Linked DNA regions of Homo sapiens: region 2 is linked to region 1. Evidence: fine-mapped expression QTL. A gene starts in region 1. The other region holds a variant in brackets. All regions are shown on one strand. Distances are between the middles of the regions.

Region 1 (5,371 bases):
CAACCCGTCTTCTCCCTCCAGCTGCCTCTGGCCGCTTGTGCGTGAGGGTGGGTGAGCCCTTTGGGATGAGTCTCATCAGAGCCTCTGCACGCTGAGTGCTTCCTGCCTGCTTAATTTTGCCACTTTCAATCCAACCAGAGGGGCATTTTGGGTCTTGCTGACCAACCCCCTGCCTCCAAGAGCAACTAAAACAGAGACATCCTTGAGAGTTGTGTTGAGTGCTTAAAACCTCCAGGGAGGGAATTTTTTACTGCAACTTGCAAATTTAGCCAGCCTGGCTGACCGAACAGGCTTCACTCAGTACCTCATCTCCACCTCCTATGCTGGGTACACCTGGGTGCATATTAGAGCAAAGGCTGAAAACAAATGTTTATATTACAGTACAACCCTATGTAAAATACACAGCTGTACAAAGGGGTAAGGCTGCTTTTTACGTACTGATACAAAGAACTTCTCTCCAGTATAACTATGAAGTGAAAGAGGCAAGGTATGGAATACTGGGTGGCACATACTACCGTTTATATAAGAAGACAGTAGTAGGAGGAGAGAAGAAAAGAGCAAAAGCGCCCCGGACATAGTAGGTGTTCAGCAATTCTAGTGGAGCAAATGACTAAATGACCTCCTTGTCCTTCCTCAAAAAAGATAACCCAATGGGCTTCCAGGGGCATCTCCACTGAACTGAAAAGTTTGTAATTGTAACCAAGCAGCTTAACTTTGAGCACATTTTACAACTTTTCTCTTTAGTCTCGAGATGTAACCTCGAAGGAACCTGCAGAAGCCTTTTTCCCTTAACCTTAAAATAGACTCCACGTCCTTCCCTTTCTCACCATAAAGCCCCTTCAAATTTATCTAACTGTATGCTAGTATTGGAGGAGGAAGAGAAGAAGAAAAGGATACACACACATATTTACTTGGTCATGCATAACATTTATTTGGAAAGACATATAAGAAACGGGTAACACTGTCACTACCTCCACCTGCAGGTGGGTAAGGCACAGGGCAGGAGGGAGACTCTGAACTTGGAATCATGTGACTGTGGTACCTATTCAGGAGTAAGCATGACCCAGCCTGGGCAACATAACAAGACCCCATCTCTGCGGAAAAATGTAAAACCATTAGCTGGGCATGGTGGTGCACATCTGTAGTCCCAGCTGCTCAGGAGGCTGAGGTGGGAAGACCACTTGAGCCTGGGAGGTCAAGGCTGTGAACCATGATCACGCCACTTCACTCCAGCCTGGGTAACGGAGTGAGACCCTGTCTCAAAAACAACAACAAAAAAAAACTCAACCCAAGCTTAAGACATGAAATGAACACAATTTTAAAGTCAGTTATGTAAGTTCCTTGTGCCAGAGAAGGGTTCCTATTTCTTTGCTCTGTGGGCTCCGCTGAGATGAGTAGCAGCTGATGACCCTGGCTTGATGTATTCATTCCACTAACACTTGCTGTGCCCCCACCCCCACCGACACAGCTGTAAGCAAAGAGCTCACCTTAATCACTGGGGGTTGGGATGCAGGTTCCTGGACCACACCCTAGACCTTCTGGGCCCAGGAATTTGCAATGTTAACAAGCACCCTTGATAATTTTTGAAACCACCAGAGGGTTAATAACCACCTAGTCTAGGCAGGCGCTGTGGCTCACGCCTGTAATCCCAGCACTTTGGCAGGTCGAGATAGGAGGATTTCTGGGATCAAGAAGTTCGAGACTAGCCTGGGCAACATGGCAAAACCCGGTCTCTACAAAAAATACAAAAATCAGCTGGACATGGTGGTGCACACCTGTAGTCCCAGCTACTTGGGAGGCTGAGATGGATCACTGGAGCCAGGTAGGTTGAGGCTGCAGTGAGCTATGATTGCGCCACTGCACTCTAGCATGGGTAGAGACCCTGTCTCAAAAACAAAACCAAACCACCAGTCCAGCACTTTGCCGAGCTCCTTCGTCAATTTCCAGGAGACACACACCCTAGAACTGAGACCCCAGAGCCTGGGCATGCTGCCACACATTGCCATCCTGACTGCTACCATCAACTCCTCCCAACTGCCCTCTGCAGGTATTTGCCCCGACAGCTTCCAGCTGAGTCCTCCAGCAACATGGCCAAGTTGATCACTCCAAGGCACCGACTTCCCAGAGCCCCTCCTCTTCCCAGCTGAAGGCCACAGATGCCTAAGCAACCGGCCTCAGACTCCCCTGGCCTGCAGCTCTGCAGGCACGAGGTGCCTGATAAATTGGTGATGAAGGGGTTCTGATGCCACCTGCTCCCCAGACTATCAGCCACCAGGAAGCTCTTAGAGGGAAAATCAGTGACACCTGGGCAGCTGCTGACCCCTCCCCTTCTTAACAAGGGGGTGGCCTGCACAGGCCTGGACTGTATAACAGGGAAGGGCAGGGTGAGCCCTGGGGCGTCTGAGGCTGCTGTGCTGAGTGAGGGCTGCGGTGCAGGCCTGAGGATGGTCAGCGTGGAGGGCCGAGCCATGTCCTTCCAGAGTATCATCCACCTGTCCCTGGACAGCCCTGTCCATGCCGTTTGTGTGTTGGGCACAGAAATCTGCTTGGATCTCAGCGGGTGAGATGCTGGGAGCTCTGCCAGAGGTGGCAGGCAGACAGGCAGGCAGGCCTGGGACCCAGTCCCCTTGATCTGGGAGTTGGGGGTTACTTCTCTAGCCTCACTATCCTGCCCCATCTTGGGAAGCCTTGGGTCTCTAGTGGGGGGCCTCCCAGTTCCAACCACGCAGAATTCTGACTTAAATCCTGCCTCTGCCCTGTAGCAGCTGCCATGGACTCTTAGTGAGGCAAGGGCCTTGGCCTCTCTGTTCCCCTATCTGTGAAACCATGGGGACGCTGGCCTCGGGGGGCTGTGAGGAGCAGGCCAGGGAGACTGCTAGATGCTGGAGCCTGCAGGTGGAGGTGACTCAGCAGGGTCACAGTACAACTTCCTGAGTCGCTTGCCCTGATCTTTTTCTTTATGGGGATCCTTTGTGGCTCCCCCCTTCTTGGGAATTGGGTGCTTATTACTAAGATGTAGCTGTGGTAACTTCTGCAGTGTCGGTAGCGGGATGGGGTTTGGGCTGGAGCCCGTCGGAGAGCAAACACAGGGGTCCTTTGGGAGGGGGTGGGTAGGAATAAGGACCCCAGACCACTCTGCCTCAACACCCTAAGGAGAATGAGGATTCGGGAGCCGTCCCCTCCCCCATGCCAGTCATCTCCTAGGCTGAGAAGGTGTTTGTGCCCTGACGCGTGTCTCTTACCGGGCAAACCAGGTGTGCCCCCCAGAAGTGCCAGTGCTTCACCATCCATGGCTCTGGGAGGGTCTTGATCGATGTGGCCAACACGGTGATTTCTGAGAAGGAGGACGCCACCATCTGGTGGCCCCTGTCTGATCCCACGTACGCCACAGTGAAGATGACATCGCCCAGCCCTTCCGTGGATGCGGATAAGGTAAGCCTCAGGGGAAGAGGTGAGGGGCATCTCCCGGGGTGGGACCTAGCACAGCCACTGGGGCTTCCTCCTGGCTGCAGACGTGACTCGAGCCTGGGAAACACGTTGTTTTGCACGTCTGATCTCATCCAGTGTCTGCAACAGACCAGTGGTGTGGGCACTCCATGACCCCATTTTACAAAGAAACAGAGGCACCTAGCGAAGGTGCCCTGCCAAGTCAGCAACCAGCAGGACTGGGATTTATTTTTTATTTTCATTTATTTATTATTATTTTTTTTTTTGAGTCTCACGCTCATTGCCCAGACTGGGGTGCAATGGCACAATCTCAGCTCACTGCAACCTCCACTTCCCGGGTTCAAGCAATTCTCCTGCCTCAGCTTCCCGAGTAGCTGGGACTACAGGCACCCACCACCATGCCCGGCTAATTTTGTATTTTTAGTATGAGACAGGGTTTCACTATGTTGGCCAGGCTGGTCTCAAACTCCTGACTTCAAGTGATCTACCTGCCTCCACCTCCCAAAGTGCTGGGATTACAGGCATGAGCCACCACACCTGGCCTACCATCACTTTACATATGAGGAAACTAAGGCACAGAGTGCTGTGTCTAAACCTAAGTAGCCTACCTAGAGTGGGATAGACCCAGGATTTGAGCTTGAGCCCAAGGGTGTATTCTCCCCTGGGTAAGCTGTCTCCCTAATGGGGTGCCTATGTTGGGGAGGTTCTCCTGTGGTAGAAGCAGGTGGCTCATTCAGGGCAGGAGTGTTCAACCTTGGTTGCAGGTGAGAACCACTGGGGAGCTAATAACATCAATACCCAGGCCACACCCCCTCTACCAATTAAACCTGAGGTACCAATGGAACCTCAGGGCTAGGATCCTGGCCGCTGGTTTAAAGCTCTCCAGGTGCACCCAGTGCGGGGCTGGGGGTGAGAACCATGATGGAGCAGTTCAGGACTGGGAGAGCTCTCCCTCCCTCCCCCCACACCCTACAGGACCTACTGGAGATGTCTGCTGCAGAGGGGTAGGTACACACACCCACCTGCGCTGTGTGCCCAGGGCAGGCAACTCCCTGAGAGGCAAGTAGTGGACTTAGGTAGGAACTGAGTGTCTCTGGCCAGGTGTGGTGGCTCATGCCTGTAATCCCAGCACTTTGGAAGGCTGAGATGGGCAGATCACCTGAGGTCGGGAGTTTGAGACCAGCCTGGCCAACATGGTGAAACGCTGTCTCTACTAAAAATACAAAAATTAGCCAGGTGTGGTGGCAGGTGCCTGTAATCTCAGGTTCTCAGGAGGCTGAGGCTGGAGAATCGCTTGAACCCAGGAGGTGGAGGTTGTAGTAAGCTGAGATTGTCCCACTGCATTACAGCCTGGGCAACAAGAACAAAACTCCATCGCAAAAAAAGGTATCTCAGATAAGAATGGAGGCCACGGTGGGTGCCAGTGGAACTCCAGACTACCTGAGAACCATTCTCTGCCCAGGGCTCGGCCTCCAGGACCCTCAGGAGTGGCCAACAAAGAACCTTGAACTTAGAGGACTAAAGCTTCTATTTAAGGATGGGGTGGATCTGTCACATGCTCTGGCCAATGGTTGGGTCTCTGGTTCATGACCAAGACCTTGTGGTCAGGGTCAGTGGCTGGAGGGCAGGTCTCTTTCTAAAAGCATAAAGTAGAGGCTGGTGTGGGACACAGTCCCACAGTTGGGACTGAGTCCCAACGCTGCTTCTTCACCTGGGTGTCCTTCTTAGTGAGCAGCTTAAGCCACCAGAGGCCTGTTTCCCCACCGTGCACCTTATGGAGTAGGACATGGGACCCCAGGAGAGTGGGTTTAGCAGGGAGGATGTATAGTGTGGTTTCAAGCTTGGGCTCTAGAGCCAGGCAGCCTGTTTCTTAAATCCCTTTGGGATAAGTCCCTTGATCACCCCGCCATCAGGGATACAGCTC
Region 2 (5,371 bases), 21 kb after region 1:
GGGTTTCTCACTCACAGGAGGCATCTACTTGTTCTTCAAAGAAACCCAAGTCTTCCATACAGTGTGATATTCAGGCATGGTTTGACCCCATATAGCTGCATATGACCTGCAAGACTGAGCCGACACACCCTTCCCCCAGTAAGCGTCAGACTGTTCTAGACCTTGTCAGGCTGGTAGCTCCCTGTGGCTTTGCATAGACCCAAGAAATAGGTTCTTTGGAGCAGTAGCATAGATACTATGAATGTGCTATGCCAGTAGTTACATTGCTGTATTCTATTAGTAGCAACATGAGCTTTGGACCTGAAGCCGGACTACAGTCCCAATTTCAATATCTCCCAATATTAGGGCCTTGCTGACCTCCAACTTTTGAGGACCTGTTTGTTCCGTTTGTTTAAGATAATTTATTATTTTTTCTTTTTGAGATGGAGTCTCGCTCCGTTGCCCAGACTGGAGTGTAGTGGTGTGATCTTGGCTCACTGCAGCCTCCACCTCCAGGGTTCCAGCAATTCTCCTGCCTCAGCCTCCCGAGAAGCTGGGATTACAGGCATGTACTGCCACGCCCAGCTAATTTCTGTATTTCTAGTAGAGATGGGGTTTCACCATGTTGGCCAGGATGGTCTCAAACTCCCAGTCTTAGGTGATCCGCCCGCCTCAGCCTCCCAAAGTGCTGGGATTACAGGCGTGCGCCACTGCGTCCGGCCAGATGAGTGGTCTTAACATCAGCCTCACACACTGCTGTTTCCCTTCAAGGAAGGGATGGCCACTGTAGATCTGTGAGCCTGATGCTGTGCACAACGGCTTGAAGACCCCAGGGCTCAAGACCCACCCAACGCCACACATATAAAAATGACAACCATGCATGGTGGCAGGCGTATAGTCCCAGCTACTGTGGGGGGCCGAGGCAGGAGACTCACTTGAACCCAGGAGGTGGAGGTTGCGGTGAGTCAGATCATGCCACTGCACTCCAGCCTGGGTGACAGAACGAAAGGAAGGGTACTTGCAGAATGTGACCGAAGGGTATAAACAGAGCAGGCCTTGGCTACCAGGGAAGGGGCCGCCACTGGCACTTCCCAACCTGGCTCTGCCATGGGCAAAGCTGAGTAGTGTCAGACAAGATGGGCTCTGAGCTTCTGGCTTGTGCCGAGGTCAGGGATGGTTGCTCTGTCGACCTCACGGGCAGGGATGTAACCTCTCCTGGTGAGAAGGATGTGTTCTTCCTCTCTTGGCACAAGGAGGTCATAACCAGTAAGGGACCTTCGAAAGCCTTCCCAGAACTGGCTTCTCTCCCATGGCAGGGAGCTGCAGCTGCAGGGTTTTGTGGACACAGTGACGAAGCTGAGTGAGAAGAGCAACAGCCAGGTGGCATCTGTCTATGAGGACCCCAACCGCCTGGGCAGGTGGCTCCAGGTAACACCCCACCTGGGAACCCACCTGTCGGGGAGGGGTGGGGAGACTCAGCATGTGCCACCTAAGAGGAACTTCACAGGCTTCTGGTTAACCTTAAAGACCGAAGCCTTGATAGGGGCGGCCCTGTTCTTAGGACTTCAGTGGAGGCTCAGATGAGGATTTGCCTGAGTCATGGCCACTAAGGAATAGTTAGAGTCCAGCCTCCTTCCCATTCCAGAATGGACACGTGTTCAAGACCACAGAACCCTAACCCCCAGGCCCCGGAAGGCTCTGATACCTTTGGCTAAGGCTGTGAGAGCTGGGCCACTGCCCTGGGGTCCCGCCTGACTCTGGCACAGCACCAAGTCTAGAGCCCCGGTCAGCCTTCGGTTCTAGAGCTCTGTCCTCTGCAGATGAGTGATCATCACATGCTAGGCACGCCATCCTGAGCACCAGAGATAAACTGGAACATATGCTGTCCCATGTTAGCAAGGATAGAACTTTTAAGTGCTATGAAATTTAGACAATGAGATGATACAGTGATTCATTAGACCAAATGAGGCAGTTTAAGAATAGTTGGGAAAATCTGCAAATGAAACTTAAGGAAACAAGGAGCTGGCCATGCAGAGATTTGGGGCAGGGGTGGCCAGGATTAAAAGGAGTTCCTGGCCGGGTGCAGTGGCTCAAGCCTGTAATCCCAACACATTGGGAGGCTGATCACTTGAGGTCAGGAGTTTTAAAACAGCCTGGAAAACATGGCAAAATACTGTCTCTACTAAAAAAATACAAAAATCAGCCGGGCATGGTGGCGCGCGCCTGTAGTCCCACCTACTCTGGTCACTGAGGCAGAAGAATCGCTTGAACCCAGGAGGCGGAGGTTGCAGTGCACCTAGATCACGCCACTACACTCCAGCCTGGATGACAGAGCGAGACTGTCTCAAAAGAAAAAAAAAAATCTGGGGTTGTGCTTGGAGGTCTTGAAGAAGGCTGATGCAGACAGATCACAGTGAACAAAGGTGAAAGGCAGGGCTACCTCCTGGTTAAGGTACCTTTTAAGCTAAGGACAAACAAGAGACACTCAAAGCATGAATCGGGAATGAAAGGTTATAGTTCAGGTTTTCAAAAGACCCCTCTGGCTAAGATGTAGGGAACAGATCTTAAGAGTAGGCAAGAATAGAAGCGAAACTGGAAGGCATCACAGTGGCATAGGGTGGAGACACGGTGGCTTCCTGAGTGGCACCAGCGCAGAGCTGACTCAGAATGTAAGCCAGTAAGGCTTGTTAATGGATTCTTTACGAAAGAAGAAAGGAAGAATCTGGATGCTCAAGTCTTTTTCGCCCAGACTGGAGTGCAGTGGCGCGATCTCAGCTCCACTGCAGCCTCTGCCTCCTCCTGAGTAGCTGGGATTACAGGCATGAGCCACCATGCCTGGCTAACTTTTTGGTTTTGTTTTAAGTAGACTGTCTCACCATGTTTCCCAGGCTGGTCTTGAATTCCTAGGCTCAAGTGATCCACCCACCTTGGCCACCCAAAGTGCTGGGATTGCAGGCGTGAGCCACCACACCTGGCCATGGATGCTCAAGTCTTAAACCTGAAGAGTAGGGGAGAGAGGGATCGGAGAGCCTTCAAGAAGGGGTGATATCTGAGCTGGGTGTTGAGGGTTGAGCAGGAGTTGGCAGGAAGGAAGGGGGTTCTTACCGTACCTTTTCCGTAAATGGGGTCCGGGGAGATGTGTGACTGGCAAACAATCTGTCTTCCTCTCCATTCCAGGATGAGATGGCCTTCTGCTACACCCAGGCTCCCCACAAGACAACGTCCTTGATCCTCGACACACCTCAGGCCGCCGATCTCGATGAGTTCCCCATGAAGTACTCACTGGTGTGGAACTTGGTTTGGCTAATCTGAGCTCAGTCCAATCTCTCAGGCCTGGGGCCTGCCTAGAAATAATGGGGCACCAAGTGGGGAGAGGGCCCAGGTGGCCTCTG[AG/A]GGGGGAGGGGACGTGGAAGTCTACCTGAGAGCCTGGATTTAGGGATAAGACTGGGGCCTAAAGCCATCCCCTACTAACACCCCTTCCCTGGCTCGGTCTCTCCCCCAGAGCCCTGGTATTGGCTACATGATCCAGGACACTGAGGACCATAAAGTGGCCAGCATGGATTCCATTGGGAACCTGATGGTGTCCCCACCTGTCAAGGTCCAAGGGAAAGAGTACCCGCTGGGCAGAGTCCTCATTGGCAGCAGCTTTTACCCCAGGTGAGCCACAAAGCCAGACGCCTCCAAATGAAAGGAAGGGACCATGGTCGTTCCCCTGGCCCCGCCTGCTTCCCATAGCACCTCAGCAGGTCACACACACTGGACCATTTCTTAAACTGAAGACATTTGAGCTTTTGATTCACGTGGGAGACTAAAGATGAGAATAAACCATTTATTCTTTGATTCCAGGGTTTAAACTGAAACAAGTGAAATTTGGTCCACCAGGATGTCATTTCCAAGAGATATGTGGTTGGATTTCTTGGTGGCCATAAATCCAAAATGATACTTGTGCCCGGGCTTGTCTGTCTAGAAACACTAGGCTCTGTTCTGAGTGGGGTCAGAGTAAGGGATTCGTAACCAACACATCCGCTATGGACCGGCCTCTTTCACACAACGGTCAGAGGCCAGCTCCCTGGAGGCAGCATGACACCAAGTGGCGGGTGACCAGCCCTGGGCCACACTGGCTCAAGAGCTGTTCTTTCCATCTTCCTTCTAGCGCAGAGGGCCGGGCCATGAGTAAGACCCTCCGAGACTTCCTCTATGCCCAGCAGGTCCAAGCGCCGGTGGAGCTCTACTCAGATTGGCTAATGACTGGCCACGTGGATGAGTTCATGTGCTTCATCCCCACAGATGACAAGAATGAGGGCAAAAAGGTCTGCTTTGGGGTCTGGAGAAGGGACATCTGACCCTTGCCTTCTGTTGGGGAATCTTGGAAGATTCTGGAGAGAAAACTGGCTTTTTCTTGTTTTTTTTTTTTTTTGTTTGTTTTTTGAGAGTCTTGCTCTGTCACCCAGGCTGGAGTGCAGTGGCGTGATCTCCGCTCACTGCAACCACTGCCTCCCGGACTCAAGCAATTCTCCTGCCTCAGCCTCCTGAGTAGCTGGAATTACAGAAACATGCCACCACACCTGGCTCATTTTTGTATTTTTAGTAGAGATGGAATTTCACCATGTTGGCCAGGCTGGTCTCGAACTTCTGACCTCAGAGGATCTGCCTGCCTCGGCCTCCAAAGTGCTGGGATTACAGATATGAGCCACCATGTCCAGCTGAGAAAGCTGGCTTCTGACCCAAGTTCTGTTTCCCAGGGCTTCCTGCTGCTCCTGGCCAGCCCCAGTGCCTGCTATAAACTGTTCCGAGAGAAACAGAAGGAAGGCTATGGCGACGCTCTTCTGTTTGATGAGCTTAGAGCAGATCAGCTCCTGTCTAATGGTAAGGGAACTCCCTTTCCACAGAACAGAACTGGGGTCTTCCTTTTTCCAGGGGTCCTTTCTACATAGCCATTCTGTCACGCTTGGCGTAAAGGATGCCAGGGAAGCACAGAAGCTGTTGGAATTGCCATATTAGAACGTCTTATTTCTGGGCTGCTCTAGTGGTACTACAACACAAGTAGACCAGATGTTCTGGGATGGCCTGGAGGCTGTTTGGATGTATTTGAAGGGGGACTCACTTAGTACATAGGTGGCCCCAAGTGGGGGGAAAACGGGTGTTAACAATGCTAGTGCCTGGATTTATTCAGGGCATGTTGGATTAAGTATCTAGGGACTGGGACTTTGTGGGTCTCCTGGTTACATTAAGGAAACACACAGGTGGACAAGCAGAGGTGGTGTGGCTGGTGCCATTGCACTTCTGATCTAAAGGCTGTGGGAGTGGGCTGGGCATGGTGGCTCACACCTGTAACCCCAGCACTTTGGGAGGCTGAGGCGGGCAGATCACCTGAGGCCAAAAGTTCGAGGCC

Which allele goes with the higher level. Positions count from the first base shown, and alleles are read on the strand shown. Sizes are in standard deviations (SD) of each study's normalised expression.
As copies of A replace AG in region 2, the expression in memory regulatory T cells of the gene that starts at base 2,395 in region 1 goes down (large effect, 1.2 SD a copy in Schmiedel 2018).

Evidence for each region. PIP is the estimated chance that this variant, and not a neighbour inherited with it, causes the effect.
Region 2: its variant is the best candidate, but not a certain one, in a credible set for the expression of PADI6 in memory regulatory T cells (Schmiedel 2018, PIP 0.58).

What each region holds. Positions count from the first base shown.
Region 1 is chr1:17,369,802-17,375,172 of GRCh38, forward strand. PADI6 (peptidyl arginine deiminase 6) reads left to right here and starts at 2,395. Exons shown (of 16, transcript NM_207421.4): 1 at 2,395-2,560; 2 at 3,255-3,432. The coding sequence starts at 2,445.
Region 2 is chr1:17,390,819-17,396,189 of GRCh38, forward strand. It overlaps PADI6 (peptidyl arginine deiminase 6), which reads left to right. Exons shown (of 16, transcript NM_207421.4): 9 at 1,296-1,407; 10 at 3,157-3,264; 11 at 3,482-3,636; 12 at 4,133-4,289; 13 at 4,722-4,845. Among named protein-coding and RNA genes, the nearest start is that of PADI6, 21 kb to the left of the region's middle. RefSeq lists an enhancer at 2,903-4,102. The variant AG/A (reference allele first, on the strand shown) is at 3,372.